Linked DNA regions of Homo sapiens: regions 1, 2 and 3 are each linked to region 4. The links come from fine-mapping of genetic effects on gene expression. A gene starts in region 4. Each other region holds a variant in brackets. All regions are shown on one strand. Distances are between the middles of the regions.

Region 1 (8,000 bases), 350 kb after region 4:
TTATCATTTTACATGTATAAGTTAATCGAGTATACCAGAAGTTGTTTTCCTTTTTTCCAAGTCATCTATTGTGTGGATAATAGATGATTTGCTATAATTTCTAAGCTTAATTTTTTCCCATTAAAAAAATCTAAGTCTTCTTCCAAATTATGTATGTTTTTAGCATCAAAAGATGTTTTGATGGAAGTGTGGAAGTTATATGGCATGCTTTGATAGAATAGAGATTCATTATTTTGTTACAAATGTTTATTGAACAACTACAGAATGAATGAAGTTCCCAAGAAAATATCATTTGAAGTTCTTTTATTTGAAATATTTATTTACATAAACAAAAATCTGTAGCTCAGAGTCAATGCAGAGTAATACTTATTAATGATTGTGAGATCTTTGAAAATCCTGGTGTCATAGCAAAATTCAAAAGGGGTTTGCTTTGTATCTTTTTCAGTTAATAAAGGAGAGAACATGGATCAATAAAAGAGAGAATATGGATTCAATTGTTGTTATATGAATGTTGTAATAAGTTAGCTGTGCACTTTATGAAACTTGGAAAGCCTGGATTAAGTCTACTGATTTCACTGAGAAACAAATAAACAAACATCAACCAGTCCAAATCAAACCAGGAAACTTGGAACACATTGAGTGAACATGGGCTTTGGAATTGGACAGGCATGGATTTGAATCCCAATTCTGCTCTTTATTAACTGGGTGACACTGGACAAGGTACTTAGCATCACTGAACCACAGTTTCTTAGTCTATAAAGATAATATGAGTCTTACAGCATTATTGGAAGGCAGCTATAATCCTGGTGTAACACCAATACACCTACAGGATTATTGTCAGAATTAGAAAAAATACGCAAAGCTTATAACATGGTGTCTGGCCTGCAGTAGCTGTTGTTATAACCAGGGTCCAGGCAAACCCTGGAACATGGGAACTACAGAGGAAGCTGGAAAACCTTTGAGCAAAGATTTGGTAAGAGCATAGGCTTTATTTACTTCCATACATTCTAACTTATTTGGCAATTCCTGATTGTAGAGTGTGGGGTTCACCTCCTTTGGGGCTTACATGGGTTTGCCTTTGAGTGGAGAATTGAGCTGAGTGCATATACCCCTCAGATTACATTGACTCTTTTGAGGCAACAGGCTGCAGAGGGTCTCAGAATAGCTGGTGTTGCTATCACAGTCAGTGAGCAAATATAGACTAGTATCTGATAATCTCTCATGTTGAGTGTGATGAGCAAAATGCTAGGTCGTTTTATTCAAGTATCTGCATAAGAAGTTATGTGCAGAAGACTGGTTGGTCTAGTCCATGCCTTTGCCCGCTAAATCAGTATCATTTAAACAAAATTTTAATGTTTTATTCTCTTCTTGTTTATTTGTTTCTAAAATAAATATAGACATGTCTATAAATTTGTATATCTTCCCTTTTAAATATTAGAATGCTATATATTTGCTTTTTTACCCTTTTATTTTGAAATAATTATAGATTCACAGAAAAGTACAAAAATAGCACAGGGAGGTCCCTGTGTACGCTTTATCCAGCTTTCCCCATTGTTATATCTTACATCAGTTTAGGAAAATGTCAAAACCAGAAAATTGGCATTAGTACAATGGGTAAATACAGTTTTGTGACATTTTTTCATGTGTATATTTGTATAGACACTACCACAATCAAGATACAGAAAGGTACCAACAAAATTCTCTCTCAAGTAACCAGTTTATGGACATATCACCCCCTGTCCTGCCATCATCCCTAACTCATAGCAGCCACTAAATAGTTTCCATTTCTATAAGTTTGTCATTTCAATAATGTAATATAAATGCAGTCATACAGAATGTGACTTTTTGAGTTGGCTTTTTCACTCAGTGTAATGCTCTTGAGATCCATCCAAGTTTTTGCATATATCAATAGTTTATTCCTTTATTTGTCAATATTGATTAATAGTTTATTGGTGACTTGTTTTCGTGGTATGGATGTATCACAGTTTGTTTAGCCATTCATTCACTGAAGGATATTTTGTTGTTTCTGGATTTCGGCTATTACATATAAAGTTGCATTGAACATTTTTATGCAAGTTTCTGTTTGGGCACAAGTTTTCATTTTTCTAGGATAAGTACTGAGGAATGTGATTGCCTAGCTATATGTAAGTTACATTTAATTTTTAAAAAACTGTCAAACTGTTTCCAGAATGACTGCCATTTTTTTCATTCTCACTATGAATCTTTAAGAGATCCAGTTTCTCTGCTTCCTCGCCAGCACTTGGTGTTATCCCACTTTTTTTCTGTTAGCCATTCTGATAGGTGTAGTGATATCTTACTATGGTTTTAAGTTTGCATTTCCCTAGTGCTTAGTGATTTTTGAAAATATCTTTATGTGCCTGTTTGCTATTTGTATATTCTCTTTTGATAAAATTTGCGATTTGTATATTCTCTTTCGTAAAATGTATCTTAGTGCCTTTTGCTCATTTTCTAATTGAATTGTCTTTTTACTGTTGAGTTTTGAGAGTTGTTTATATATTCTAGAAACTATCAGATGTGTGGTTTGCAAATATTTTTTCTCTGTCATTTACTCTTTGTGACAGAATTTTTTTTCATGGCAATAATTTTTAATGAATAGTTTCTGATGAAGTTCAGTTTATTGTTTTTTTCTTTCATTGATCACACTTTTGATTTTGTGTCTAAGAACTCTTTACCAAGCTCGAGATCCCAAAGATTTTTTCATATATTTTCTTCTAAAAGTTTCATAGCTTTATGTTTTATATTTAAATCTATGATCAATTTTGAGTTAGTTTTGGTATAAGGAGTGTTTCAGGCTGCAGTAATCAGAATTCTAAGATGACCCCTTTGTCCTTTCCCATGTTGTACATCTGCTATAAAATTAGTCTTCTCCCCTCGATGGTGGGTGATACCAGTAAATGTAATGGATACCACTCCTGTGATTAGGTTACTCATCAAAAGAGATTGTCCTGGATGGGCCTGACCTAATCAGGTGACTCCTTTCAAGAAGCCAAGGTGTCTGAGAGATGTTCTTCTGAGGGACTGGAGGAAAGCAAACAGCCATGTTGAAAGAGGGCGGTGGGGGCATTTGGCAAGGAGCTGAGTATGCCCTTTAGGG[G/T]CAGAGAGTGATCCTGGGTGACAGCCAGCAAGAAAATGGGGACTTCTTTTTCACAATGGCAAGTAAGTGAATTCTGCCAACTTGAATGAGCTTGCAAGAGGACTCTGCTTCTCAGGTGAGATCACAGCTCCAGATGATACCTTGATTTCAGCCTGCTGAGACACCCGAGCAGAGGACCCCACTAACCTATGCTGGACTCCTGGCCCATGGAAATTAAGAGATAATAAATTTGTGTTGTTCTAAGCCTTTAAGTTTCTGGTAATTTGTTATGCAGCATGCAATACAGATTTCAATACCCTAGAGTGAGGTGCTGCTTTTATGCTTCTTTGTAGATGTAGATTTTGATTATTGGAGCTTACATCTGGGTGTGAGGGAAAGAAGTAGGACATACATGCTGTGAGACACAGTGAATAGATAGACTGTCTTCTGGGTTTGGAAGCTTCCTTAGGCTCTGCTCTGCTTTCCTGATTCTAGGGTCCTTACTCATGGTTTTTGTTTCTGGGGACAAACCCAGCTGCTGCCACCCTGCACAGCCCTAAGTACGGGAAGAGTCAACTAGCTCAGTTGCTTCCAGTGTACATCTACAGTTAGTCACCTGATGCCACAGGGGAGTAGTCTCCAAACTTTTTCATAGCACACTCTTATTTTTAAGTCAGCTTCCCTAACATATATACATTCATTCCTTAATAACTTATATATGTGTTGTTATTAAATATGCTCCATAACATAGAAAAAGAAAATTTTAAAGGTATGATTTTTAAAGGTTTTAAGAGAAACATTAAAAAGTAATTATAAAAACTATTGAGAAAATGAAAAAGATCAGTGGTTGCCAGGAGTTAGAGGGGAGCGAGGGATGAATCTGCAGAACACAGGATTTTTAGAGCAGTGAGTCTATTTTGTGTGATACTAATAATAGTGAATACATGTCACTATACATTTGTAAAACCCATAGAATGTCCAACACCAATAGCCGTAATGTAAACTGTGGATTTTGGGTGATAGTGATGTGTCAGCATAGGTTCATTTTTGTTGCAATAAATGTACCACTTTGTAGGAGGGTATTGATATGAAAGAGGGTTTATGTGTATAGGGGCAGAGCATGTATGGGAACTCTCTGTACTTCATGCTCAACTTTTCTGTGAACCTAAAATTGCTCTAAAAATAGTCTATTTAAAAAGTAAATATACCATAAAATCTATCTGTGGACATCCTATAATTTTTTTTATTTTAACTCACTTTGTTGACTATAAATACATGCCATTAATTATACAAGATAATAAATTATACCTTATTTATAAAGTAAGAAATAACATATGTATTCTTTACTATAGTTTGGCACTGATGTCTTCACTTGGTCTATTTGTTAAACATTAATGTGTCCTGTAAGGTACGTTCAAGGAAGAGTGGAAGGCTTTTGCAATGTAGAGGGGCTGAAAGTGGCATCATTACTCATTTATTTACTTTTGTGTTTCAACATGAAAATATGTATGTAACTGTTAAGTGAATCTATATATTAAATTATTTTACATAGTACAGTCTTTATAATAGTTTATAATGAGATGAGAGACTTTAAAATCTTCTCTGTAAAGTTCACTGTTGTGACAGCATGCTTCAAAGTACTCTTGAACTTGTGTAAGAATTATGCAATTTTCTTTCAAAAAAGATGAGGGTTACAAATCTGTAGAACTTTTCTTTGATGGCAAGTGGCTAACAGAAACATTCTAGCTAGAAGATATTAAACACATACTCTGTCACTTCAAGGTAAAGTGACATTTGTAAAAAAATAAAAACTAACTGCTCTGAGTTTTGCAGAGAAAACATTGTAAAATAGTTGTTTGGAAATATTTCCAGAATTATGGACTTTTTTTCTCAAAATGATACAAAGCTATAAAATTCATATATATATATATATGTATATATATATATATATATACACACACACACACACATAAAAATTTCAGAAATGTAATTTTCTAGCCACAGTGTCTTTTGAACTTTTGTTACGAATGTAGAAAGTATTTAATATAAAAGGTTTTTGTTAAAGAATAATTGATTAATTCAGGGAAGTTGGAAATTTTCTAGGCAAAATTTAAATTACAACTTTTGTTTGATTGATAGGTAGTATTGAAACATGAATTCCCTGATTTAGTAAACACAACTGTATTAGGGCATTCTTGCATTGCTATAAAGAAATAACTGAGGTGGAGCCAAGATGGCTGAATAGGAACAGCTCCAGTCTACAGCTCCCAGCATGAGCAATGCAGAAGATAGGTGATTTCTGCATTTCCAACTGAGGTACCGGGTTCATCTCACTGGCGAGTGTTGGAAAGTGGGTGCAGGACAGTGGGTGCAGCGCACCGAGCATGAGCTGAAGCAGGGCAAGGCATCACCTCACCTGGGAAGCACAAGGGGTCAGGGAATTCCCTTTCCTAGTCAAAGAAAGGGGTGACGGACGGCACCTGGAAAATTGGGTCACTCCCACCCTAATACTGCACTTTTCCAACAGTCTTAGCAAATGGCACACCAGGAGATTATATCCTGTGCCTGGCTCAGAGGGTCCTACACCCACGGAGCCTCACTCATTGCAAGCACAGCAGTCTGAGATCAAACTGCAAGGCGGCAGCGAGCTGGGGGAGGGGCGCTCGCCATTGCCTAGGCTAGAGTAGGTAAACAAAGCAGCCGGGAAGCTCGAACTGGGTGGAGCCCACCGCAGCTCAAGGAAGCGTGCCTGCCTCTGTAGACTCCACCTCTGGGGGTTGAGCATTGCCAAACAAAAGGCAGCAGAATCCTCTGCAGACTTAAATGTCCCTGTCTGACAGCTTTGAAGAGAGTAGTGCTTCTCCCAGCACGGAGTTTGAGATCTGAGAACGGACAGACTGCCTCCTCAAGTGGGTCCCTGACCCCCGAGTAGCCTAACTGGGAGGCACCCCCCTAGTAGGGGCAGACTGACACCTCACATGGCCGGGTACTCCTCTGAGACAAAACTTCCAGAGGAATGATCAGGCGGCAACCTTTGCTGTTCACCAATATCCGCTGTTCTGCAGCCTCCACTGCTGATACCCAGGCAAACAGGATCTGGAGTAGACCTCCAGCAAACTCCAACAGACCTTCAGCTGAGGGTCCTGACTGTTAGAAGGAAAACTAACAGAAAGGACATCCACACCAAAACCCCATCTGTACGTCACCATCATCAAAGACCAAAGGTAGATAAAACCACAAAGATGGCGAAAAACAGAGCAGAAAAACTGGAAACTCTAAAAATCAGAGTGCCTCTCCTCCTCCAAAGGAACTCGGCTCCTCACCAGCAACGGAAGAAAGCTGGATGGAGAATGACTTTGACAAGTTGAGAGAAGAAGGCTTCAGACGATCAAACTACTCCGAGCTAAAGGAGGAAGTTCGAACCCATGGCAAAGAAGTTAAAAACCTTGACAAAAGATTAGACGAATGCTAACTAGAATAACCAATGCAGAGGAGTCCTTAATGGACCTTATGGAGCTGAAAACCATGGCACGAGAGGTACGTGACGAATGCATAAGCCTCAGTAGCCGATTTGATCAACTGGAAGAAAGGGTATCAGTGATGGAAGATCAAATGAATGAAATGAAGTGAGAAGAGAAGTTTAGAGAAAACAGAATGAAAAGAAACAAACAAAGCCTCCAAGAAATATGGGACTATGTGAAAAGACCAAATCTACATCTGATTGGTGTACCTGAAAGTGACGGGCAGAATGGAACCAAGTTGGAAAACACTCTTCAGGATATTATACAGGAGAACCTCCCCAATCTAGCAAGACAGGCCAACATTCAAATTCAGGAAATATAGAGAATGCCACAAAGATACTCCTCGAGAAGAGCAACTCCAAGACACATAATTGTCAGATTCACCAAAGTTGAAATGAAGGAAAAAATGTTAAGGGCAGCCAGAGAGAAAGGTCGGGTTGCCCACAAAGGGAAGCCCATCAGACTAACAGTGGATCTCTCGGCAGAAACTCTACAAGCCAGAAGACAGTGGGGGCTAATATTCAACATTCTTAAAAGAATTTTCAACCCAGAATTTCTTATCCAGCCAAACTAAGCTTCATAAGTGAAGGAGAAATAAAATCCTTTACACACAAGCAAATGCTGAGAGATTTTGTCACCACCAGGCCTGCCCTAAAAGAGCTCCTGAAGGAAGCACTAAACATGGAAAGGGACAACCAGTACCAGCCACTGCAAAAACATGCCAAATTGTAAAGACCATCGAGGCTAGGAAAAACTGCATCAACTAACGAGCAAAATAACCAGCTAACATCATAATGTCAGGATCAAATTCACACATAACAATATTAACCTTAAATGTAAATGGGCTAAATGCTCCAATTAAAAGACACAGACTGGCAAATTGGATAAAGAGTCAAGACCCATCAGTGTGCTGTATTCAGGAAAGCCATCTCACGTGCAGAGACACACATAGGCTCAAAATAAAAGGATGGAGGAAGATCTACCAAGCAAATGGAAAACAAAAAAAGGCAGGGGTTGCAATCCTAGTCTCTGATAAAACAGACTTTAAACCAACAAAGATCAAAAGAGACAAAGAAGGCCATTACATAATGGTAAAGGGATCAATTCAACAAGAAGAGCTAACTATCCTAAATATATATGCACCCAATACAGGAGCACTCAGATTCATAAAGCAAGTCCTTAGAGACCTACAAAGAGACTTAGACTCCCACACAATAATAATGGGAGACTTTAACACCCCACTGTCAACATTAGACAGATCAACGAGACAGAAAGTTAACAAAGATATCCAGGAATTGAACTCAGCTCTGCACCAAGCAGACCTAATAGACATCTACAGAACTCTCCACCCCAAATCAACAGAATATACATTCTTCTCAGCACCA
Region 2 (8,000 bases), 200 kb after region 4:
CGGGTCCCATGCCCACAGAGCCCAGCAAGCTAAAATCCATTGGCTTGAAATCCTTGCTGCTAGTGCAGCAGTCTGAGAATGACCTGGGATGCTGGAGCTTGGCGGGGGGAGGGCGTCTGCCATTGCCAAGGCTTGAGTAGGTGGTTTTATGCTCACAGTGTAAACCAAGTTGCCGGGAAGCTCAAACTGGGCGGAGCCTACCGCAGCTCAGCAAGGCTGACTGCTTCTCTAGATTCCAGCTCTGTGGATGGGGCATATCTGATCAAAAGGCAGCAGCCTCATTCAGGGACTTATAGATAAAACCCTCATCTTCCTGGGACAGAGCCCCTGGGGGAAGGGGCAGCTGTGGGCACAGCTTCTGCAGACTTAAACATTCCCCTGCCTGACAGCTCTGAAGAGAGCAGTGGTTCTCCCAGCATGGTGTTCAAGCTCGAATAACGGGCAGACTGCATCCTCAAGTGGGTCCCTGACCCTCGTGTAGCCTGACTGGGAGACACCTCCCAGTAGGGGCCAACAGACACCTCTTACAGGAGAGCTCTGGCTGGCATCTGGCAGGTGCCCCTCTGGGACGAAGCTTCCAGAGGAAGGATCAGGCAGCAATACTTGCTGTTTTGCAGCCTCCGCTGGTGATACCTAGGCACACAGGGTCTGGACTGGACGTCCAGCAAACTCCAACAGATCTGCAGCTGAGGAGCCTGTTAGAAGGAAAACTAACAGACAGAAAGGAATAGCATCAACATCAACAAAAAGGACATCCACACCAAAACCTCATCTGTAAGTCACCAACATCAAAGACCAAAGATAGATAAAACCACAAAATGGGGAGAAACCAGAGCAGAAAGGCTGCAAATTCCAAAAACCAGAACACATCTTCTCCTCTAAAGGATCACAACTCCTCACCAGCAAGGGAACAAAATTAGACTGAGAATGACTTTGACGAGTTGACAGAAGTAGGCTTCAGAAGATGAGTAATAACAAACTTCTCCGAGCTAAAGGAGCATGTTCTAACCCACTGCAAGGAAGCTAAAAACCTTGAAAAAAGGTTAGACGAGTGACTAACTAGAATAACCAGTGTAGAGAAGAACATAAATGACCATCATGTTGAAGCTGCCAGGCTTCAAATGCATTACTCTGAGCAAGTGACTTAACCTCTCTGGGCCTCAATTTTCTGATGCAGCTGAAAAACACAGCATGAGAAATTCATGAAGCATACACAAGCTTCAGCAGCAGATTTGATCAAGCGGAAGAAAGTATATCCGTGATTGAAGATCAAACTAATGAAATAAAACGAGAAGACAAGATTAGAGAAAAAGGAGTAAAAAAAATGAACAAAGCCTCCAAGAAATAGGGGATTATGTGAAAAGACCAAATCTGTGTTTGATTGGTGTATCTGAAAGTGACGAGGAGAGTGGAACCAAGTTAGAAAACGCTTTTCAGGATATTATCGAGGAGAACTTCCCAAACATAGCAAGGCAGGCCAACATTCAATTTCAGGAAGTACAGAGAACACCACAAAGATATTCCTCGAGATGAGCAACCCCAAGACACATAATCGATAGATTCACCAAAGTTGAAATGAAGGAAAAAATGTTAAGGACAGCCAGAGAGAAAGGTCGGGTTACCCACAAAGGGAAGCCCATCAGACTAACAGCGGATCTCTTAGCAGAAACCCTACAGCCAGAAGAGAGTGGGGGGCCAATATTCAACATTCTTAAAGAAAAGAATTTTCAACTCAGAATTTCATATCCAGCCAAACTATGCTTCTTAAGTGAAGGAGAAATAAAATCCTTTACAGACAAGCAAATGCTGAGAGATTTTGTCACCACCAGGCCTGCCTTACAAGAGCTCCTGAAGGAAGCACTAAACATGGAAAGGAACAACTGGTACCAGCCACTGCAAAAACATGCCAAATTGTTAAGATGCTATGAAGAAACTGCATCAAGTAACGGGCAAAATAACCAGCTAACATCATAATGACAGGATCAAATTCACATATAACAATATTAACCTTAAATGTAAATGGGCTAAAGGCTCCAGTTGAAAGATTCAGACTGGTAAATTGGATAAAGAGTCAAGACCCATTGGTGTGCTGTATTCAGGAGACCCATCTCACACGCAGAGATGCACATAGGCTCAAAATAAAGGGATGGAGGAAGATCTACCAAGCAAATGGAAAGCAAAAAAAAAAAAAGCAGGTGTTGCTATTCTAGTCTCTGATACAACAGACTTTAAACCAACAAAGATCGAAAGAGACAAAGAAGGCCATTACATAATGGTAAAGGGATCAATTCAACAAGAAGAGCTAACTATCCTAAATATATATGCACCCAATACAGGAGCACCCAGATTCATAAAGCAAGTTCTTAGAGACCTACAAAGAGACTTAGACTCCCACACAATAATAATGGGAGACTTTAACACTCCACTGTCAACATTAGACAGATCAACGAGACAGAAAATTAACAGGGATAGCCAGGACTTGAACTGAGCTCTGGACCAAGCGGACCTAATAGACATCTACAGAACTCTCCACCCCAAATCAAAGGAATAAACATTCTTCTCAGCACCACATCACACTTATTCTAAAATTGACCACATAATTCGAAGTAAAACACTCCTCAGCAAAAGTAAAAGAACAGAAATCACAACAAACTGTCTCTCAGACCACACTGCAATCAAACTAGAACTCAGGATTAAGAAACTCACTCTAAACCGCTCAACTACATGGAAACTGAACAACCTGCTCCTGAATGACTACTGGGTAAATAACAAAATGAAGGCAGAAATAAAGATGTTCTTTGAAACCAATGAGAACAAAGACACAACATACCAGAATCTCTGGGACACATTTAAAGCAGTGTGTAGAGGGGAATTTATAGTACTAAATGCCCACAAGAGAAAGCAGGAAAGATCAAAATCAACACCCTAACATCACAATTAAAAGAACTAGAGAAGCAAGAGCACACAGATTCAAAAGCTAGCAGAAGACAAGAAATGACTATGATCAGAGCAGAACTGAAGGAGATAGAGACACAAAAAAACCCTTTAAAAAAAATCAGTGAATCCAGGAGCT[G/GT]TTTTTTTTTTTAAAAGATCAACAAAATAGACTGCTAGCAAGACTAATAAGAAAGAGAGAAGAATCAAATAGATGCAATAAAAAATGACAAAGGGGATATCACCACTGATCCCATACAAATACAGACTACCATCAGAGAATGCTATAAAGACCTCTACATAAATAAACTAGAAAATCTAGAAGAAATGTATAAATTCCTGGACACATACACCCTCCCAAGACTAAACCAGGAAGAAGTCGAATCTCTGAATAGACCAATAACAGGTTCTGAAATTGAGGCAATAATTAATAGCCTACTCACCAAAAAAAGCCCAGGACCAGATGTATTCACAGCCGAATTCTACCAGAGGTACAAAGAGGAGCTGGTACCATTCCTTCTGAAACTACCCAATCAATAGAAAAAGAGAATCCTCCCTAACTCCTTTTATGAGGCCAGCATCATCCTGATACCAAAGCCTGGCAGAAATGCAACAAAAAAAGAGAATTTTAGGCTAATATCCCTGGTGAACATTGATGCAAAAATCCTCAATAAAATACTGGCAAACCGAATCCAGCAGCACATCAAAAATGCAAGGCTGGTTCAACATGTGCAAATTAATAAACATAATCCATCACAGAAACAGAACCAACCACAAAAACCACATGATTATCTCAATGGATGCAGAAAAGGCCTTCGACAAAATTCAACAGCCCTTCATGCTAAAAACTCTCAATAAACTAGGTATTGATGGAACGTATCTCATAATAATAAGAGCTGTTTATGACAAACCCACAGCCAATATCATACTGAATGGGCAAAAGCTGGAAGCATTCCCTTTGAAAAACGGCACAAGACAAGGATGCTCTCTCTCACCACTCCTATTCAACACAGTATTGGAAGTTCTGGCCAGGACAATCAGGCAAGAGAAAGAAAGGGTATTCAGTTAGGAAAAGAGGAAATCAAATGGTCTCTGTTGGCAGGTGAGATGATTGTATATTTAGAAAACCCCATCGTCTCAGCCCAAAATCTCCTTAAGCTGATAAGCAACTTCAGCAAAGTCTCAGGATACAAAATCAATGTGCAAAAATCACAGGCATTCCTATACACCAGTAACAGTCCAACAGAGAGCCAAATCATGAGTGATCTCCCATGCACTTCCAGTTGCTACAAAGAGAATAAAATACCTAGGAATCCAACTTACAAGGGATGTGAAGGACCTCTTCAAGGAGAACTACAAACCACTGCTCAACGAAATAAAAGAGGTCACAAATGGCAGAACATTCCATGCTCATGGATAGGAAGAATCAATATCGTGAAAATGGCCATACTGCCCAAAATAATTTATAGATTCAGTGCTATCCTCATCAAGCTGCCGCTGACTTTCTTCACAGAATTGGAAAAAACTACTTTAAATTTCATACGGAACCAAGAAGAGCCCGCATAGCCAAGACAATCCTAAGCAAAAAGAGCAAAGCTGGAGGTGTCAGGCTGCCTGACTTCAAAACAGTAATCAAAACAGCATGGTACTGGTACCAAAACAGATATATAGACCAATGCAACAGAACAGAGGCCTCAGAAATAACACCACACATCTACAACCATCTGGTCTTTGACAAGCCTGACAAAAACAAGCAATGGGGAAAGCATTCCCTATTTAATAAGTGTGCTGGGAAAACTGGCTAGTCATATGTAGAAAGCTGAAACTGGATCCCTTCCTTACGCCTTATACAAAAATTAACTCAAGATGGACTAAAGACTTAAATGTAAGACCTAAAACCATAAAAACGCTAGAAGAAAACCTGGGCAGTACCATTCAGGACATTGGCATGGGCAAAGACTTCATGACTATAACACCAAAAGCAATGGCAACAAAAGCTAAAATAGACAAATGGAATCTAATTAAACTGAGGAGCTTCTGCACAGCAGAAGAAACTATCATGAGAGTGAACAGGCAACCTACCGAATGGGAGAAAATTTTTGCAATTTATCCATCTGACAAAGGGCTAATATCCAGAATCTACAAAGAACTTAAACAAATTTACAAGAAAAAAACAACCCCATCAAAAAGTGGGCAAAGGATATGAACAGACACTTCTCAAAAGAGGACATTTATACAACCAACAAACATGAAAAAATGCTCATCATCACTGGTCATCAGAGAAATGCGAATCAAAACCACAACGAGTTACCATCGCACACCAGTTAGAATGGCGATCATGAAAAAGTCAGGAAACAACAGATGCTGGAGAGGATGTGGAGAAATAGGTACGCTGTTACACTGTTGGTGGGAGTGTAAATTCAACCATTGTAGAAGACAGTTTGGCAATTCCTCAAGGATCTAGAACTAGAAATACCATTTGACCCAAGCAATTCCACTTACTGGTATATACTGAAAGGATTGTAAATCATGCTACTATAAAGACACATGCACACATATGTTTATTGCGGCACCATAGCAAAGACTTGGAACCGACCTAATGTCCATCAATAATAGACTGGATAAAGAAAATGTGGCATATGTACACCATGGAATACTATGCAGCCACAAAAAGGATGAGTTCATGTCCTTTGCAGGGTCATGGATGAAGGTGGAAACCATCATTCTCAGCAAACTATCACAAGGACAGAAAACCAAACAGCGCATGTTCTCACTCATAAGTGGGAGTTGAACAGTGAGAACACACGGACACAGGGAGGAGAACATCACACACCAGGGCTTGTCGGGGGTGTGGGCTGGGAGAGGGATAGCATTAGGAGAAATACCTAATGTAAATGATGAATTGATGGGTGCAGCAAACCAACATGGCTCATATATACCTATATAACAAACCTGCACATTGTGTACATGTACCCCAGAACTTAAAGTACATATATAAAAAAAGAAAAAGGTGATTTATGTTACTAATATTCTTTGTAAGTATGACGCTTAAAAGTAGATTGGTTTCTTAAGCTATCTTCTTGTTTATGTTATTAATTTATTTAATGTATTTTTTCTTGTCACTGTGTTATGTATATATTCTAGGAGATAAAATAAAAATGTGTGAATTGGTCTGACGCTAATACGCACAGTTGTTAGAGAACAATAATGACAACTCATGAGCGACTTCAAGCAGAATGTAATTAAGGGTGAGATGAAGAGATACAGGCTTTTAATGCTACAAGAATCTACAGAAGGTGCTGCTCATTGTGGGCTTATGAGTATAGGGAAGACTTCAGGGAGGAGCTTGTGATTTAGCTAGACTTAGAATGATGGCAAGTTAGAGAGGAGAGATGGCATTCAGATGAAGGGCATGGTTAAGCAGAGATGCAGTTGTGGGAATAAACATAGAATGGAAGGAACAGACATTAAAAGGATGAGATTGAAAATCCGTGCCTAGCAGACCTGGCCTATAGATAGTGATTAATAAAGGATATTTTCCATTATTCATATCGGAAGAGAGATGTATCATTGGCATGGGGTCAAATTACAGAGGTTTTATAAAACTAGGCAGTAATTTCCTCTGAGCACATTACAAAAGTGGCCCCTTACAACACTTTCAATGTTAAAATATTGACACAATAATTAAGACCCTGATAAAGATATGCATAGGTAAGATTTATCAAGTAGAAGGTGGTGTCTTTACATGCTTGCCTAAGTCTAGGAGCAGAGGTGCCTTTGATATTAGATCTGGCTGTGCCTCTTACAGCTAGAGGAAATAGCAGGTTCAGGAAAACTTTTTTTTAGGGTAAGTTTTAAGTGTTTGTTCGCTAAGAAACACGACTTTGAGAAGAGTAAGTGATTGTTAATTAAAGCAAGAGAATTATTGATGTATCACAGTCATGAGGAATATTGGAAGGAATATGGTCCATACAGGTAGATAAAGGAATATTATTGGACTGACACAAAATTATCAGTGTGGACCCTCTCTGGATATAACTTGACCATCTGAGCTTTTAGAATAATTTCTTCAAACATGATGAGGGGTTTGTTTATATAATATTTTTCCAGGGTCATGTGTTTTCATTTTAAGTTATATTTTTGTAGTAGAAATTTCAGGTATTTTGACAGAAAGGATGGGAACATATTTTCAGAAAGTTAAAGCGTATGAGTAGTTATGAAGAGAGAATAATGACAGTAATAAATATAAAACCATAAGAGCTTATATAGTCATGTGGAGTTTCCAATTTAGCATATGAATAACCTAAACAGGTAAACATTATTGTATGGTAGAGAGAGCATTAGCTTTAAACAAAGCGGATTTGATTTTGTATCCAAATGTAGTTATCAGTTATCTAGTTATCAGTTGTGTGAAACTGGGCACGTTATTTAACTTTACTGGGTCTCAGATTCTTTGCCTATAAATGAAGATATTATCTTCCTCCTGGATGTTCCAAGGATTTAGTGAGATAATACTTTTTGAGCATTGTGTATAATACCTGGCAGTTGGTGGGTGGTAAAAAAATAGTTGTCACCTTATTACTCATCTCACTGTGAATGTAGAGTATAACATAAATGAGCACACATGCGCATACACACACACACCCCTTTATACATTTTCAGGCTACTAATTATTAATCTTCTATCCTAAAATTGCTAAGCTGCTCTACAGGGGAGGCAATACTTTAGGGTTAAGCAGGAATTCTGCCTGACTTTGAATACTGGTTCTGACACTAGCTGTGTGACCTTGGGCAAGTTATTTAAATCCTGTGTGCATCAATTTGTTTATATATAAAATGGGGAAAGTAGTTTTACCTATCTCATAGAGTTATTTAGAAGACTAAATGAATACATTTTTAAAGTGCTTAGAAGAGTCTTTGATTACTGGTTTGCTTGCTTTGCTTAGTTCATATATTGGTCATTATTAATATTTATTGCATTAACAGAATAATAAATAGATTTTGTAAAAAATAAGGTCAAATGAAAATACATTGGTTGATCTTAGAATTTCAAGGTAATTTAAATGTTAT
Region 3 (8,000 bases), 55 kb after region 4:
TAGTGATTGAAGCATGGGGGAGTTTGTGACGGTATGGGAAGTGTAGCTTGAAAATAATTCCATGAACTATAGAAAGAGGAGGAAGAGTAGGGAGGCAGTGAAGAAAGTTATCAGACCACCCTTAGTAGGCATGGTCTGATAGGCCTTAAGACAATCCAGGGATTGGGGTGCAACATATCAAAAGCTGACCCAGTAAGTATGATTGTGATGTAGTGACAACTCGGAGGAAGTTACGTGAAAAGAAAGTGTTTTTAGGAATATCCACGTAACAGAATAGTATGCAAATACACACAGAAATAAGATATGAACATCAACAGATGGATGCAAAATATTAGGAATATAATTTTATTTTGTTTTATTATTTTATATTTTTGAGACAAGGTCTCACTCTGTTGCCCATGTTGGAGTGCAGCGGGACTATCACAGCTCACTGCAGCCTTTGCCTACCTCAGCCTCCTTTGTATCTGGGACCATAAGCATGTGCCACGAAGCCTGGTTAATTTTTAAAATTTTTGTAGAGATGGGGGTCTTCCTTTGTTGCCTAGGCTGGTCTTGAATTCCTGGGCTCAAGTGATCCTTCTGCCTCAGTCTCCCAAAGTATTGAGATTACAGGAGTGAGCCACCACACCTGGCTTATAATTTTATTTATGTAACACATTAACATATGTTGACATGTATGACAGGTAAACACCTTAAGGAAGTTTACCTTAAATAATCAAGGGCAGCAAGGAGCATTTCTTTTCTTCTGGAAAACTATGTACTGGTATCCTATTAACAAATGGCATAGAAAAGGACTCTGACACTGATAACTTTGTTATAAAAATGCCCCTAATTTGGCCGGGCAGAGTGGCTCATGCTTGTAATCCCAGCACTTTGGGAGGCTGAGGCGGGCAGATCATGAGGTCAGGAGATTGAGACCATCCTGGCCAACACTGTGAAACCCTGTCTCTACTAAAAAAAAAAAAAAAAAAAAAATTAGCCGGGAGTAGTGGCACGCACCTGTAATCCCAGCTACTCAGGAGGCTGAGGCAGGAGAATCGCTTGAACCCAGGAGGTGGAGGTTGCAGTGAGCCAAGGTCGCACCACTGCACTCCAGCCTGGGCGACAGAGCGAGACTCTGTCAAAAAAAAAAAAAGAAAAAAAAAAGTCCCTAATTTAGGGAAATTTAAAAGCAAGAAAGTAAGGGTCTTGCCCCTTTCACCTCTGATTTCGCTCCTCATGTCAGGATATAGAAGCATTACGTTTTTACATAAATAAAATGATACACCTCAATAATATTTTGCCTCCATCTTTTGATGTTCATACCTTATTCTTTTAGTATTTGCATGGCATTCTGTCATGTGGATTTTCCTAACATACTGTAGCCTTTCCCTTACCTGTGGGGCATATGTTACATGACACCAGTGGATGCCTGAAACTGCAGATATGCTGTGTTTTTTTCTATACACACACATACCTATGATAACGTTTAATTTATAAATTAGGCGCAGTAAGAGATTAACGATGTAACTAATAATAGAACCATCATAACAAGATACTATAATAAAAGTAATGTGAATGTGGTCTTTCTCCCACTCTAAATATCTTATTGTACTGTATTCACTTATTTTTGGACCTAGGTTGACTCAGGGTAACTGAAAGGGAAGATGAAACCGCAGATAAGAGGGAATATTGTATTTCAGTAATCTCTTATTGATGCACATTTTATTTCTTTCAAAATTTTTAGCTCTAATTAATGATTCACTAACATTCTTGTCCATATCTTTGAGCAGTCATACAAATGATTCTTCGTGTAAATGCCTAGAAATATAATTGTTTCATTTTCAAGCTTATGGATTCACAATTATGATAAATGTTATACAAAGCACCAGTTTATGCTCTATAGCAACAAACACTTTGTAATTGTAGAACTTTGCTAGCCTTGGGGACTTAGAGAGGAGGAACTTGTTCTGGGTCTTTCAGGAGATAATAATGTAATAGATTAAGGTTGTAGTTAGCTATATTGATATATTTTATAAGCTAGAAAAGAGGAGTACATTTAACTCTGATACTTTTCTAACTAGTGTAATTCTTCAGAATTGGAACGGAACTGTATTTTGGATTCTGAGAAATGTTGTTTATATGAGTATATATAAAGAATTATACTTTTTGGGCTACGTTTCTGGAAGATGTGGAAAGAAAGCAAGTTTATTTTCTAACAGCCAAATGTAGTTTCCTGTGATATTAAATGTCAGTTCAAAAACAAGCCTCATTTTAAAATATTTTAAGTTCAACAGCCCCCTCTAGTGGAAAAAAGAAGAACTTCCCTCAATTTCCAGTGTCCTTAATATGATTTTATTTCACACACACAGACACACATAATAAAGATGCAGGTAGCTTTTGGTGTGATTGGAAAATATGTTCTGTAACAAAAATTTTAAAGTTACATTTATTTGGGATGAAGGCAAGTTTTTCTGTAAATTGCATGAGGTATTTTTGTAGTTTTTTTGGATTTTCTTGAGTGTTACATTGCATCTCAGGATTGGATGATATTGATAAAGCCATAAACTTAAAGCAAATATTTGAACATACAACCCCCCCAGGGATTTATATATACTCAATGCCCAATATAACCCAGCAATACCATTAATGTAACAAATGCTACCTAGATCATGTTAGTGTGTGTTATGTTTACTGGAACTGGAAACAAACAGTAAATTGTTATATCATTGAAGACAATTCTGAGTCACTTCCCCATCCTGCCACAACTTCAGCCCCAAAAGAATAACTGCCATTCTGAAGTTGGTGTTTAATTTTCTGTCTGTATACATTGACAGTATATTGTATTATTTTAGTATTTTTGTTTTAGGATATATATTAGAATATCATACAGGATGCTTCTTTGTCAAACTTATATTTTTCACTTTTTTTTTTCTTTTAGACAGGGTCTCACTCTGTCACCCAGGCTGGAGTGCAGTGGCGCGATCTTGGTTCACTGCAACCTCTGCCTCCTGGGCTCAAGCAATCCTCCCACCTCAGCCTCCTGAGTAGCTGAGACCACAGGCACGTGTCACCACACCTGGCTAATTTTTGCATTTTTTAGTAGAGACGGGGTTTCGCCATGTTGGCCAATCTATTCTTGAACTCCTGAGCTCCAGTGATCCACCCGCCTTGGCCTATCAAAGTGCTGGTATTGCAAGTGTGAGCCACCATGCCTGGCCTGCTTGTATTTTTGAGGTTTGTTAAAGTTAATAAAATAGCTTCTGTTCATTCAGTTTAACTGCTGTATAATATTTTATCTTGTGCGTGTGCCATAATTTACTCATTACCTGACTGCCTTGTCCATTTTCTGTTGTTTATAACAGAATATATGAAGCTGGTTAATTTATAAAGAAAAAGAATTTATTCTTGCAGTTCTGGAGGCTGAGACATCTAATGTCAAGGGACTGCATCTGACGATGGCCTTCTTGCTGATGGGAACTCTGCAGAGGTCCAAGGCTGCACAGGGCATTGCATGCTGGTGGGCTGAGTGTGCCAGCTCAGGTCTCTCTTTCTCTTCTTGTAAAGCCACCAGTTCTACTGCCATGATAACCCATTAACCCATTAATCCATGATTGGATTAACCCATTCACAAGGGCAGAGCTGTCATGACCCAGTCCTCTCTTAAAGGCCCCACTTCTCAAAACTGTCACATGGGGGATTACATTTCAACATGAGTTTTGGAAGGGACACACATTCAAACCATAACACTGACATTGAGATTTAAGTTCTTTGCAAGTTTAAATTATTACAGACAGTGATTCCATGAACATCACATCTTTTTATGTGGGTATGTATTTAGTGCGTATAAAATATGTGCCAAATTGTTCTCTTAAGTGGGTGTAACAATTTCAAAGAAGAGTTTCTCTTCCTTTACAGCCTCTTGGTATTTTTCAGATTTAATTTCTTTTGAAATAGGATATGTGTGAAATTGTATCTCATTCTTGCTTAAATTTCCACTTCCTTGACATTGACCATGTTACGTTTATTGGCCATTCACATTTCTTTTTTGTGAAGTGCCAGCTTATATTTTTTGCCTTTTTTCTTTTGGATTTTTGGGTATATTTTTATTGATTAATAGGAACTTTTGGCTGGGGGTGGTGGCTCCTGCCTGTAATCCTAGCATTTTAGGAGTCTGAGGTGGGAGAATTGCTTGAGCCCAGGAGTTCGAGACCAGCCTGGGCAACAGAGACACTCTCTCTATGAAAAAAAAAAAAAAGTATATATATTAGCCAGGCGTAGTGGCATATACCTGTGATCCTGGCTACTAGGGAGGCTGAGGTGAGAGGATTGCTTTTGCCTGGGAGGTCAAGGCTGCATTGTCCTATGATCACAGCCCGGGCTACAGAGCAAGACCCTGTCTCAAAAAAAAAAAAAAAAAAAAAAAAAAAAGAGTGGTTTTTTTTT[A/T]AAAAATATATTTAGTAACTAACCCTTGGTTATGTATATTCCTTTTGCAAACATCTTTTTCTTCTTTGTAGAGACAGAGAGGCAATTTACATTATGTATGATGAACAGTTTAAAATTTTTTTTTTTTTTGGACACGGAGTCTCGCTCTGTCATCTAGGCTGGAGTGCAGTGGTGTGATCTTGGCTCACTGCAACCTCCGCCTCCCGGGTTCAAGCGATTCTCCTGCCTCAGCCTCCCGAGTAGCTGGGATTACAGGTGCCTGCCACCATGCCCAGCTAATTTTTTATTTTTTTTTATTTTTAGTAGAGACGGGGTTTCACCATGTTGGCCAGGCTGGTCTTGAACTCCTGACCTCAGGTGATCCACCCGCCTTGGCCTCCCAAAGTGCTGGGATTACAGGCGTGAACCACCGCACTTGGCCTAGTTTTAAATTTTAATGTAGTTGAATTTATCAGTATATTTTTTTATAGTTGTGATTGTTTTGTCTTAGATAACCCAAAGTCATAAAGATAATGCGTATATAGCATGAGATGGGATCTAATTTTGTTTTTCCAAATAGATAGCCAAGTGTCCCTGTACTAGTTATTCAATTGTCTGTTCTTTTACCGCATATTGATTTATAGTGTCATTTCCATCATACATCAAGTTCTTTTATATCTAAGATTTTGTTCTTGGGTACTCTGTTCTGTTTCACTTACATGTTTGTTTCTGCATCAGTACTAAATTGCTTTATTCATTATACCTTTAGAATAAGTCTTGATATCTGGTAGAGAACTTTCCTCTGTCTTTATTCTTAATATTTTTTAGGGGTGAGGGAGGGGTTATTCTTGGCTTTTTACTTCCCTATGTGAGTTTCAGGAATGGCTTATTGTATTCCATCAAGAGACCTTCCTGTAATTTTGATTAAAATTGGATTGCATTTATAGATCATTTTGACATAAAGTTGACATCCTTATAATGCTTATCTCTTCTATTTTCCATCTTTTTATATTTTTACTCTTATTTTCTGAGAGATTTTCTCAATTTTATATTGCAGCCTTTCTATTACATTTTATTTCATCTTTTGGGTTTTTAATTTCTAAGCTCATTCTTGTTATTTGATGATACCTTTCTTAGTATATTCTCCTTGTTTCATGTTTGTAATGTCTTAATTTAACTCTTTGAGGATATAAGTCATACTTATTTTGAAGGTGTTTCTCCCCCCACCCCTCCCTTGATGGTCTTGTCTTCTTTTCTTTTCTTTCTTCTTGTTTTTGAGACTGGATCTTGCTCTGCTGCAAAGGCTGGAAATGCAGTGGCTCGATCATGGCTCACTGCAGCTTAAACCTCCTGGGCTCGGCTGGGCGCGATGGCTCATGCCTGTAATCCCAGCACTTTGGGAGGCCAAGGCGGGTGGATCACCTGAGATCAGGAGTTCAAGACCAGCCTGGCCAACATGGTGAAACCCCATCTCAACTAAAAAAAAAAAAAAAAAAAAAAAAAAAAAAAAAAAAACTGGGCGTGGTGGTGGGTGCCTGTAATTCCAGCTACTTCGGGAGGCTGAGGCAGGAGAATCACTTGAACCTGGGAGGCGGAGGTTGCAGTGAACCGAGCTGGTGCCATTACACTCCAGCCTGGGTGACAAGAGTGAAACTCTGTCTAAAAAAAAAAACAAAAACCTCCTGGTCCCAAGCCATCTTCCCACCTCAGCCTCTCGAATACCTGGGACTACAGGTGTGCACGACCATACCTGGCTAATTTTTTCTGTTCTTTGTAGACACAGGGTCTCACTGTGTTGCCCAGTCTGGTCTTGAACTCCTGGACTCAAGTGGTCATCCCGCCTTGGCCTCCCAAAATCCTGGGATTACAGGTGTGAACCACTGTGCCCGGCCTGGTCTTTATTTTCTCTGAGTGTTTGGCTTCATTTTGTAGTAGCCTCTGAGTTTCACATGAGAAGTGATATATTTTGGATGTGTGTCTCTGCCCAAATCTCATATTGAAATGTAATCACCAGTGTTGGAAATAGGGCCTGGTGGGAGGAGATCATGGGGGCAGATTTCTCATGAATGGTTTAGCACCATTCCTCTTGGTACTATCCTCATAGTAGTGAATGAGCTCCACGAGATCTGGTCATTTAAAAGTGTGTAGCGCCTCCTTCCTCCTGCTCCTGATCTGGCCATGTGACGTGCCTGCTCCCCCTTCACCTTCTACCATGATTGTAAATTTCCTGAGGCCTCCCCAGAAGCCAAGTGATGCCAGCATCATGCTTCCTGTACAGCCTGCAGAACTGTTAGCCTATTAAACCTCTTTTCTTTATAAATTACCCATTCTCACATATTTCTTTATAGCCATGCAGGAACAGCCTAATACAAGAACCTTTCCGCAAATGTCCGGTGATTCTAGACTGTGTGTTTATATTTAAGAATGAGGCACTAAAAAGATGAGAAGAAGCTCTTTGGATGTGGAGCCCTTGCATTGAATTAGGGAACCTTACGATGTCTTTTTTCTTGGCCTGGTAGTTTCCCTAGAAAGAAATCTTTCCGTCTCCTCCTTATATTGCTATGAGTGTAGGAGTCAGTGCTCAGGGCGCTGTGAGGTCTAACTGCCCACTATGCAGATGTTGCTTAATCTCCTTATTTTTAATAAGGTGTCTTACCCCAACCCCCAGTTGTGTTTGCTTTTCATATCGTCAGAACCTCTTTTGATCAACCTCTAGTTTGTAAACTCCTTCCTTTTACCAGGATATGGAGGGGGATTTTTCAGGGAGGGAGCTGGCAGAGGCAACCCGAGAGTGTAAAGTACTGGTTATAGAGGCTTCCAACAATGCTCCTGTATTCATTTTTACTATATAGCTTGGCTTCAAGGTTAGCTGTTTTGCTAGGGTCTGGATGTTTGTGTCCCTCCTAAATTTGTATGTTGAAACCTAATTGCCATTGTGATGGTATTAGGAGGTGGGGTCTTCAGGAGATTATTAGGTCTTGATGGTGGAAACCTTAAGTAGAATTGGTGCCTTTATAAGGGACTGAAGAACCAGAGTTCTTGCCTTCCACCATGTTAGGACACAGATAGAAAGCATCCTCTATAAACTAGAAAGTAGGCTCTTGCCAGACATTGAATCTGCCAACACCTTGATCTTGTATTTCCCATCTTCCAGAACTGTGAGAAATACATTTCTGTTTTTTATAAACTGCCTAGTTTATGGTATATCTTGTTATGGCAGGCTGGATGGACTAAGACATTGTGCCTCCAAATTCTGAGCTTTTGTGGCTGTAAATCAGCTTGCTACTAGGCTTCTCTTTTTTTCCGCATTTAGAAAAGATGAAAAAGCTGAAACCTAAGTCATTATCACTTGTCAGTTTGCTTTCTGTCTTCCAAATTTGCTCCTGACATCTTTTGTTGGCTATCATTTTCTCCACCATTCATTGTTTCTGCCATTTGTTTTTATTTTTTACTTTCATTTAAGTGGTGTTTTAGGAGAGATGATTAGCTATGTTTAATCATATCTGTTTAGTGGTCCCCTCTTGGTGTTCTTTTTAACTTATGATCTTCTGATAGAACTGCAGTCTCACTTTTCATCTCATATTTGAATTCTGGTT
Region 4 (8,268 bases):
TCAAAAGAATGTGGTTCATCTGGTGCTTTAAAACTCTGAGGCTCACATACGTACAATCAGTTTATTACACTCCCCTAGTTTCATAAAGATACAGGTGTTCTTAGACCTGCTTTTGATTTTTTTCTATTTTTTTGATCCTCTCTTCTTATATATGCCAGTTTAAAAATGCCCTAGATGTTAATGGTCAACTTCTAAAAATGTCAAGAATTTGCACAGAAGGGGAAGGTGAGTGACTTGCATTGGGCCACAAGGAAGGTCCTAATTATGAGTGTCTCAATAGGAAGCAATAAGGAAACAGACAAATGAAGTTGCTTAGTACTAAGTAGGCACAGAAAGAAGACATGAGGTTTAGAGAAAAAGTAGGAATCCTGCATGCAGGAAGTGAGAGTTTGAGAGAGAAAGACGCAAACAAAATTTTTAGGGTTTTTCTTGCCTGGGTGTCTAGGAGATTAGAAGTTTTATAAACAGGTGGGAGAGTAGTTTAGAGGATTCCCACAAGAAGTTAGAAAGATAATTAAAATTTAGTTATATTAAATTAAGTATTTCCAGAAATTAGAGTGGCACTGTTCAAACCGGGGTTAAAAATTCAAAACTAGAGCTCAGGAGAGGTCAGAGATGGATATAAAGAGTTGAATATTGGGGATATGGAGTTCATACTTGCAGGAATGGATGACATCACTGAGGACGCTTATCTGGTACAAACGATGGGAAGGTTGAGGGCAGAAACTGAGAAAATATCACTTTGAGGGGCAGGAAGGGAAGAATGGTTTCCTGAGCAGCAGCAGAAAGTTCAGAGAGTTGGAGAAACAATGGAGTATAGAGTCTCACCTTTGCTGGAGAGGCATCTGAGGATCAACATGTGTCAGCAAAGTCAAGGGGTCTCAGATTTGGCAATGAGGTCACTACTGACTTTGGAAGCTATTGGTAGAGTGGTGTGAATGAATGAATCTAATCATATCTCAAAAGGATTGGTAGAAAGAAGAGAGAGAAATGAAGTGATGTTGAGGCCAAAAGATAAGCGGGTAGGAGAACATCTCTTTATATAGCTTTTTTCAAGTAGTAGTAGCATGTTAAGCAAATAAAAGACAACAGAGAATCTCCACGCATTTTGAAATGGTCTGATTTATTGTGTAATTTTTATATTTTTTCTGCTTAAAACCCTTCATTAGCTTCATTGCTTGATAAACTCCTAAGTATGATGTAGAAATTCCTCTGTGATCTGGGTTCTGCATATTTCTCTAGCCTCATCGCTCACACCTCCTTTGCACAGACAGCTTTTTCCAGCTTTTCAAATGTCTGGTGCTGGTTCTTATGCTGGTGTTTGCAGCTTCCGTGTCTTCCTTCTAGTTCCTTGTTAGCTTCATAAATCTTTAACGGTCTTCTTAAACTAAGCTCAAAGTTCTTTTCTATGAATCATTTCTGGGAGCTCAGGGTTGATATCAATATTCCCCTGTATTTCTATCATCTAGCTCCATGTTGGGTACATAGTCTGTATTCTGTAAATGCTGAATGAACAAATAAATGAAAACGGGTCTTCACATCACATCCATTTTTCATTTCAAAAACATACAATATAGTACATAGCATTTATTCTTGCGATACAATATTCACTTTTGTGACTTTGTTAAAACACAAATAATTTTTTTTTTTTTTTTTTTGAGACGGAGTCGCGCTCTGTCGCCCAGGCTGGAGTGCAGTGACGCAATCTCGGCTCACTGCAAGCTCCACCACCCGGGTTCACGCCATTCTCCTGCCTCAGCCTCCCGAGTAGCTGGGACTACAGGCGCCCGCCACCACGCCCAGCTAATTTTTTTTGTATTTTTAGTAGAGACAGGGTTTCACCGTGTCAGCCAGGATGGTCTCGGTCCCCTGACCTCATGATCCGCCCACCTCGGCCTCCCAAAGTGCTGGGATTACAGACGTGAGCCACCGCGCCCGGCCAACACAAATGAAATTTTAAGTAGTTCCAGCTACTCAGGAGGCTGAGGCAGGAGGATGGCTTGAGTCCTGAAGGTCTAGGCTGCAGCGAGGCGTGATTGTGCCGCTGTACTCTAGCCTGGGCAACAGAGAACAACCCTGTTTCAAAAAAAAAAAAAAAAAAAAGAAAAAGAAAAAAATAAAATTTAAAAATATTTTTTAAAGCTTGTAACATAAAAGTTCTAATCTCATTAGTCAGTTGTAATTTTCCATTTCATTTCTAAACTTTAGAGTGGGCTATTTTTTCCCTTTATTTCCTCTGGAGCAATTGTCCTCTTTATGGCTCTAGTAAAAAGAATCAGGGACAGGCCTCCGTTTTAGATGTAAATGACTAAAATCAAACCAATTAAGGTTTCAGTGCTACAAGAATCAAGGAGGTTTTAATCTCAATTTGTGTTTGCATTTATGACCGTTGGCTCTCCCATGGGAGAGAGAAAAGACGGCCCCTACACCTGGTTTCAGGTTGATTACAATCAACAAGGACCCAGTTTAGTATAGAAGGCTCGTTTTGCATTAAACACCTTTTTGTGCAGAGGAGGTGGTGGTGGTGAAGATAAAAATCTTTGACCAAATCCTGTCAATTTGCATTGTTCTCTGGAAGAATAGGCTTTCAAAAGTTAAGGAACAAAAGAGGAGTTGGTTTTCCAGTCTCCCTTAGGCGGCAGCAGATTGTGAAGCAGCCACCGGGAGGAACCAAAGTATAAATTATCAATAAGAGGACGGTGTGTGTGTGTGTGTGTGTGTGTGTGTGTGTGTGTGTGTGTGTGTCAGAGAAAAGTGAGAGAAGCGAGGAAAGAGATAGGGAACACACATGCTAAGGCTCCGAGGCGTTTTCCACGATGTGCCTGGTTACGTAATGTTGATAATGAAACGCACTGCAAGCAGCATCAATGCATTCTTCCGACCCTGCTCACCACTCCCAGCTGGGATACAATGGGGACGGGAAGAGGGGACAGGATGCCCTGTGCAGGCAGAGAGCTGTCCAGACAGAGGTAAACCAGGCAGTTGGGCAGAACCCGAGCCCAGAGAATTTCTCCCCAGGCCCCGGGACCAGCCCACCGTTGCTGTGGCTCTAAAGATGGGCAGAAGAACCAGTTTCAAAAAGCAGGATCTGGGATCCGACCTCTTAGGTTTTTATTCAGCAGGCAGGGAAAAGGGGTTAGAAGCTGGAAATCTGCATTTCCACTCGGCTCTGGCGACTGAGACAGGAACGCGGACACCTCACGCTGAAAAGCCACAGCAGCGCGTGGGCAGGGCGCACCCCCGCGCGGGGACGCGGAGCTCCTGGAGCGAGAGCGCGTGCGGTCGCGAGCCCGCCGCTCCCCAGCAACGGCGCATGCGCCCGTTCGTCCCTCAGCGAAGGCGCGCTGCTTGGCGGGCGGGCTCTTCCAATCCGAGCCAGCGTTCTCGGAGTACGTATCCAGGAGCTGCAAGCTGAGGGCTGCGGGAGGCGGGAGGAAAAAGTGGGGCCGGGCCTGAGTTGGGCTGACCTGTGAAAGTCTGGGAAGGTCTGCGAGAGAAGCGGAGTGTTTTCAGCTCCGGAAGTGGCAGTTGTAAACTTCACCTCCCGGGGGCTCTTCCCCTTCTGTACCCCTTTGCTGTTTGTCCCCCTCCTCCCGGGTCCTGGAGTCCGTCGTGTTCCAACAGTTTTTGCTCTTATTCCCGTGGGCTGCCTGGGCCTCCTTTCACCCGTGAGACTTGGAGCGGCCCCTGGGGTCTTGGGTGTGCAGCACGGATCACGCGAGACCCCTGAGGTAACCGCACGGTGTGGGGGCTTCGAGGCGGACGACTTGGGAGGGAGGTGTTGAGAGGGTTGTAGGGGCCCCTGAGTGAGTTTGGGGCGGCCCTGGGGCTGTTGGCGTAGGCTTTGGGGCACGCCTCCAGCTCCCTGGGCTGGGTCTCCCCGCCCACCTGGAGGAAGATCTCCGTGGAGCATCCTAGCCAGAGATCGCTGAGGCTGTACCAGAGCGCCGGATGGGGACCAGAGGGGAGGCAGAGGACCGGGATTTGGAGCTTCTTAGGGTTACTGCTGCGGAGCGCTTTCGTTCCCGAGAATCAGTAAGCCCCTCGAGGATAGGGACCACGTCTTTCAGCCCGCTCTCCCCTTTTTAAATGCCGGCCACACACTAGACACTCTACAGATGTTTGATAAACGGGAATGAGTTGTGCTAGACTGTCACCTGCAGCTTCTACCTACCCTCCAGGACTCTGAGAGACTTAGAATCTGAGTCAGCTGTGCGTTTTCCCGAAGCTGTAAATTTTCTGCAGAAATGGAGCCGACTTTTTGAATTTTTTTATTCCATTATGATATTGATCCTAAGAAAATACATATTTCATGTATACATTTTAGGTAAATGAGATAAATACGTCTTTATTTTGTTTATTAGAGTTGGTGTCCAGCTCTTTTGAATACATGACATACCGATGTTTTATGGTTTTCATAATATTGGAGAAAAGAACATACGATTTTGTCACTTTTTTTTTTTTTTGAGATGGAGTCTTGCTCTGTCACCCAGGCTGGAGTGCAGTGGCGCGATCTCGGCTCACTGCAAGCTCCGCCTCCCGGGTTCACGCCATTCTCCTGTCTCAGCCTCCCCAGCAGCCGGGACAACCGGCGCACGCCGCCACGCCCGGCTAATTTTTTTGTATTTTTAGTGGAGACGGGGTTTCACTGTGTTAGCCAGGATGGTCTCGATCTCCTGACATCGTGATCCGCCCGCCTCGGCCTCCCAAAGTGCTGGGATTACAGGCGTGAGCCACTGCGCCCGGCATGTCACTTATTTTATTTAACTGTTAGTTCCTACTCTCAACAAAACAGTGGTAGAGCAGAAGATGAACATGGTTTTTCATAAAATGCAGAGGAAACAAAGGCAGTGCAACCTGCTAAGAGGAAAGATGAAGGGCATAGTCTTAGTTTGTAGCTTTCTGTGTTAGTCTTGGGGCTCAGCCATTTATGAGCTGCGTCCCCACAGGCAAACCACCTAACCTTCCTAGGCGTTAGGTTCTTTATCTGTCAGATAAGGAGGAAGGACTTAGTCTCTAAAGTCTCATTTGATTCTAAAACGTTTTGGTTGTCTCAGTCCCTTGGTCTTGGTCTTGTTTTGATGTAAGAACCAAACTTCCCCTTTAAAGGTTGATTATGTACCTATGCTGAGAAACACTTCCAACACAGGTGTGGTTACTAATGAAGACAGCACTGCGTAGTGAAAGAGGATGGACTTAGCCAGATGTGGATTTGAATTCTCATTTTCCGGCTGAATATTTTTACACAAATTATTCAACATCTCCAAGCCTCAGTTTTCTTATCTGTGAAATGTGCATAATCTCATAGAGATGTTGGGATTAAATGAGATCAGGAATGCTGATCTCAGTATCTGGCATATAGTAAGTGGCTCAATAATAGGAATTTCTATTTTTTCATCCACCCATCCCTCGTTTTTCCTCTGATCTGTGCAGACACACTGAAAGATGAGTGCATTTGGGATGACCAACTGAAGGACTCAGATGTAAGGTAGAAAAATTTTTTACCAGTAGTGGCTCCGAAATCTAAAGTAGATTCGCCTTTCTGGCTGGCACCTCCTCTCAGGATGTCGGGATCACTGATCCCTTGGCCTCAATTACCCTTTTATCTATTTTTAAAAATGCTTCTCATTGATGAATGATACACATAATATCCCATCATCTATTTTAGTAGGAATGGTGAGATTAGTTCAACTCCACTATCAAAAAAAGATTAATCTATTAATACATTAACATAAAAAGCTAATTTGAACCTTGCCTTTCTTTATCTATTACTGCTACAGGATGGCCTGGTTTTGGTCCAGAACTGTGAAGGTGCTATCTGGATTGAGAATCGACTGAAGGTCTGAGTAATCTTTTGTTGAGAAGGCCATGGCTTGTCAGTTTCGATACGGGGAAAAATGATATTTTTAAGAAATCTCCAGCAAAGAGCAGAAATGCTTCCCTGATAAGTGAGGTCTTACATGCTTCCCTGACTGGGATGAACTGTGTCTTGAGGGCCAATAGCAAGGCACACAGCAGAGCTCTGGAGTCAGCTAACTTGGGTGTAAATCCTGACCCTGTCACTAGAGATGTGAGAGATGTGACTTTAGTCAAGTGACTGAGTATCTATTTTTATTTCTTTTATTATTATACTTTAAGTTATAGAGTACATGTGCACAATGTGCAGGTTTGTTACATATGCATACATGTGCCATGTTGGTGTGCTGCACCTGTTAACTCGTCATTTACATTAAGTATATCTCCTAATGCTATACCTCCCACCTTCCCCCACTCTCTGCCAGGCCCCGGTGTGTGATGTTCCCCACCCTGTGTCCAAGTATTCTCGTTGTTCAATTCCTACCTAAGAGTGAGAACATGCGGTGTTTGGTTTTCTGTCCTTGCGATATTTTGCTCAGAATGATGGTTTCTAGCTTTATCCATCTCCCTACAAAGGACATGAACTCATCCTTTTTTATGGCTACATAGTATTCCATGGTGTATATGTGCCACATTTTCTTAATCCAGTCTATCATTGATGGACATTTGGGTTGGTTCCAAGTGTTTGCTATGGTGAATGGTGCCGCAATAAACATATGTGTGCATGTGTCTTTATAGCAGCATGATTTACAGTTTCTGCCGAGAGGTCCGCTGTTAGTCTGATGGGCTTCCCTTTGTGGGTAACCTGACCTTTCTCTCTGGCTGCCAGTGATGGGATGGCTGGGTCAAATGGTATTTCTAGTTCTAGATCCTTGAGGAGTCGCCATACTGTCTTCCACAATGGTTGAACTAGTTTACAGTCCCACCAACGGTGTAAAAGTGTTCCTATTTCTCCACATCCTCTCTAGCACCTGTTGTTTCCTGACTTTTTAATGATCGCCATTCTAACTGGTGTGAGATGGTATCTCATTGTGGTTTTGATTTGCATTTCTCTGATGGCCAGTGATGATGAGTATTTTTTCATGTGTCTGTTGGCTGCATAAATATATTCTTTTGAGAAATGTCTGTTCATATCCTTTGCCCACTTTTTGATGGGGTTGTTTGATTTTTTCTTGTAAATTTGTTTAAGTTCTTTGTAGATTCTGGATATTAGCCCTTTGTCAGATGGGTAGATTGTAAAAATTTTCTCCCATTCTGTAGGTTGCCTGTTCACTCTGATGGTAGTTTCTTTTGCTGTGCAGAAGCTCTTTAGTTTAATTAGATCTCATTTGTCAATTTTGGCTTTTGTTGCCATTGCTTTTGGTGTTTTAGTCATGAAGTCCTTGCCCATGCCTATGTCCTGAATGGTATTGCCTAGATTTTCTTCTAGGGTTTTTATGGTTTTAGGTCTAACATTTAAGTCGTTAATCCATCTTGACTTAATTTTTGTGTAAGGTATAAGGAAGGGTTCCAGTTTCAGCTTTCTGCATATGGCTAGCCAGTTTTCCCAACACCATTTATTAAATAGGGAATCCTTTCCCCATTGCTTGTTTTTGTCAGGTTTGTCAAAGATCAGATGGTTGTAGATGTGTGGTATTATTTCTGAGGGCTCTATTCTGTTCCATTGGTCTATATATCTGTTTTGTTACCAGTACCATGCTGTTTTGGTGACTGTAGCCTTGTAGTATAGTTTGAAGTCAGGTAGTGTGATGCCTCCAGCTTTGTTCTTTTTGCTTAGGATTGTCTTGGCAATGTGGGCTCTTTTTTGGTTCCATATGAATTTTAAAGTAGTTTTTTCCAATTCTGTGAAGAAAGTCATTGGTAGCTTGATGGGGATGGCACTGAATCTATAAATTACCTTGGGGAGTATGGCCATTTTCACAATATTAATTCTTCCTATCCATGAGCATGGAATGTTCTTCCATTTGTTTGTGTCCTCTTTTATTTTGTTGAGCAGTGGTTTGTAGTTCTCCTTGAAGAGGTCCTTCACTTCCTTTGTAAGTTGGATTCCTAGGTATTTTACTCTCTTTGTAGCAATTGGGAATGGGAATTCACTCATGATTTGGCTTTCTGTCTGTTATTGGTGTATAAGAATGCTTGTGATTTTTGCACATTGATTTTGTATCCTGAGACTTTGCTGAAGTTGCTTATCAGCTTAAGGAGATTTTGTGCTGAGACGATGGGGTTTTCTAAATATACAATCATGTCACCTGCAAACAAGGACAATTTGACTTCCTCTTTTCCTCATTGAATACCCTTTATTTCTTTCTCCTGCCTGATTGCCCTGGCCAGAAGTTCCAACACTATGTTGAATAGGAGTGGTGAGAGGGGGCATCCCTGTCTTGTGCCAGTTTTCAAAGGGAATGTTTCCAG

Direction of the effects. Alleles are on the strand shown, and positions count from the first base shown. SD is a standard deviation of normalised expression in the study named. Not every link is listed here.
As copies of G replace GT in region 2, the expression in prefrontal cortex of the gene that starts at base 3,472 in region 4 goes up (moderate effect, 0.49 SD a copy in BrainSeq).
As copies of A replace T in region 3, the expression in iPS cells of the gene that starts at base 3,472 in region 4 goes down (large effect, 1.0 SD a copy in PhLiPS).

The links.
Region 1: its variant is fine-mapped to the expression of CCDC171 in tibial artery (GTEx, PIP 0.96).
Region 2: its variant is fine-mapped to the expression of CCDC171 in prefrontal cortex (BrainSeq, PIP 0.95). The same link has a PIP of 0.9 or more in fetal neocortex.
Region 3: its variant is fine-mapped to the expression of CCDC171 in iPS cells (PhLiPS, PIP 0.95).

The regions. Positions count from the first base shown.
Region 1 is chr9:15,897,235-15,905,234 of GRCh38, forward strand. All of the region lies in intron 24 of CCDC171 (coiled-coil domain containing 171), which reads left to right. Among named protein-coding and RNA genes, the nearest start is that of CCDC171, 350 kb to the left of the region's middle. The variant G/T (reference allele first, on the strand shown) is at 3,116.
Region 2 is chr9:15,746,966-15,754,965 of GRCh38, forward strand. The region is part of intron 18 of CCDC171 (coiled-coil domain containing 171); the gene reads left to right. Among named protein-coding and RNA genes, the nearest start is that of CCDC171, 200 kb to the left of the region's middle. The variant G/GT (reference allele first, on the strand shown) is at 3,074.
Region 3 is chr9:15,604,563-15,612,562 of GRCh38, forward strand. All of the region lies in intron 6 of CCDC171 (coiled-coil domain containing 171), which reads left to right. Among named protein-coding and RNA genes, the nearest start is that of CCDC171, 56 kb to the left of the region's middle. The variant A/T (reference allele first, on the strand shown) is at 4,426.
Region 4 is chr9:15,549,572-15,557,839 of GRCh38, forward strand. It overlaps CCDC171 (coiled-coil domain containing 171), which reads left to right and starts at 3,472. Exons shown (of 26, transcript NM_173550.4): 1 at 3,472-3,731. RefSeq lists enhancers at 3,069-3,714, 3,610-3,779 and silencers at 3,170-3,229, 3,240-3,329.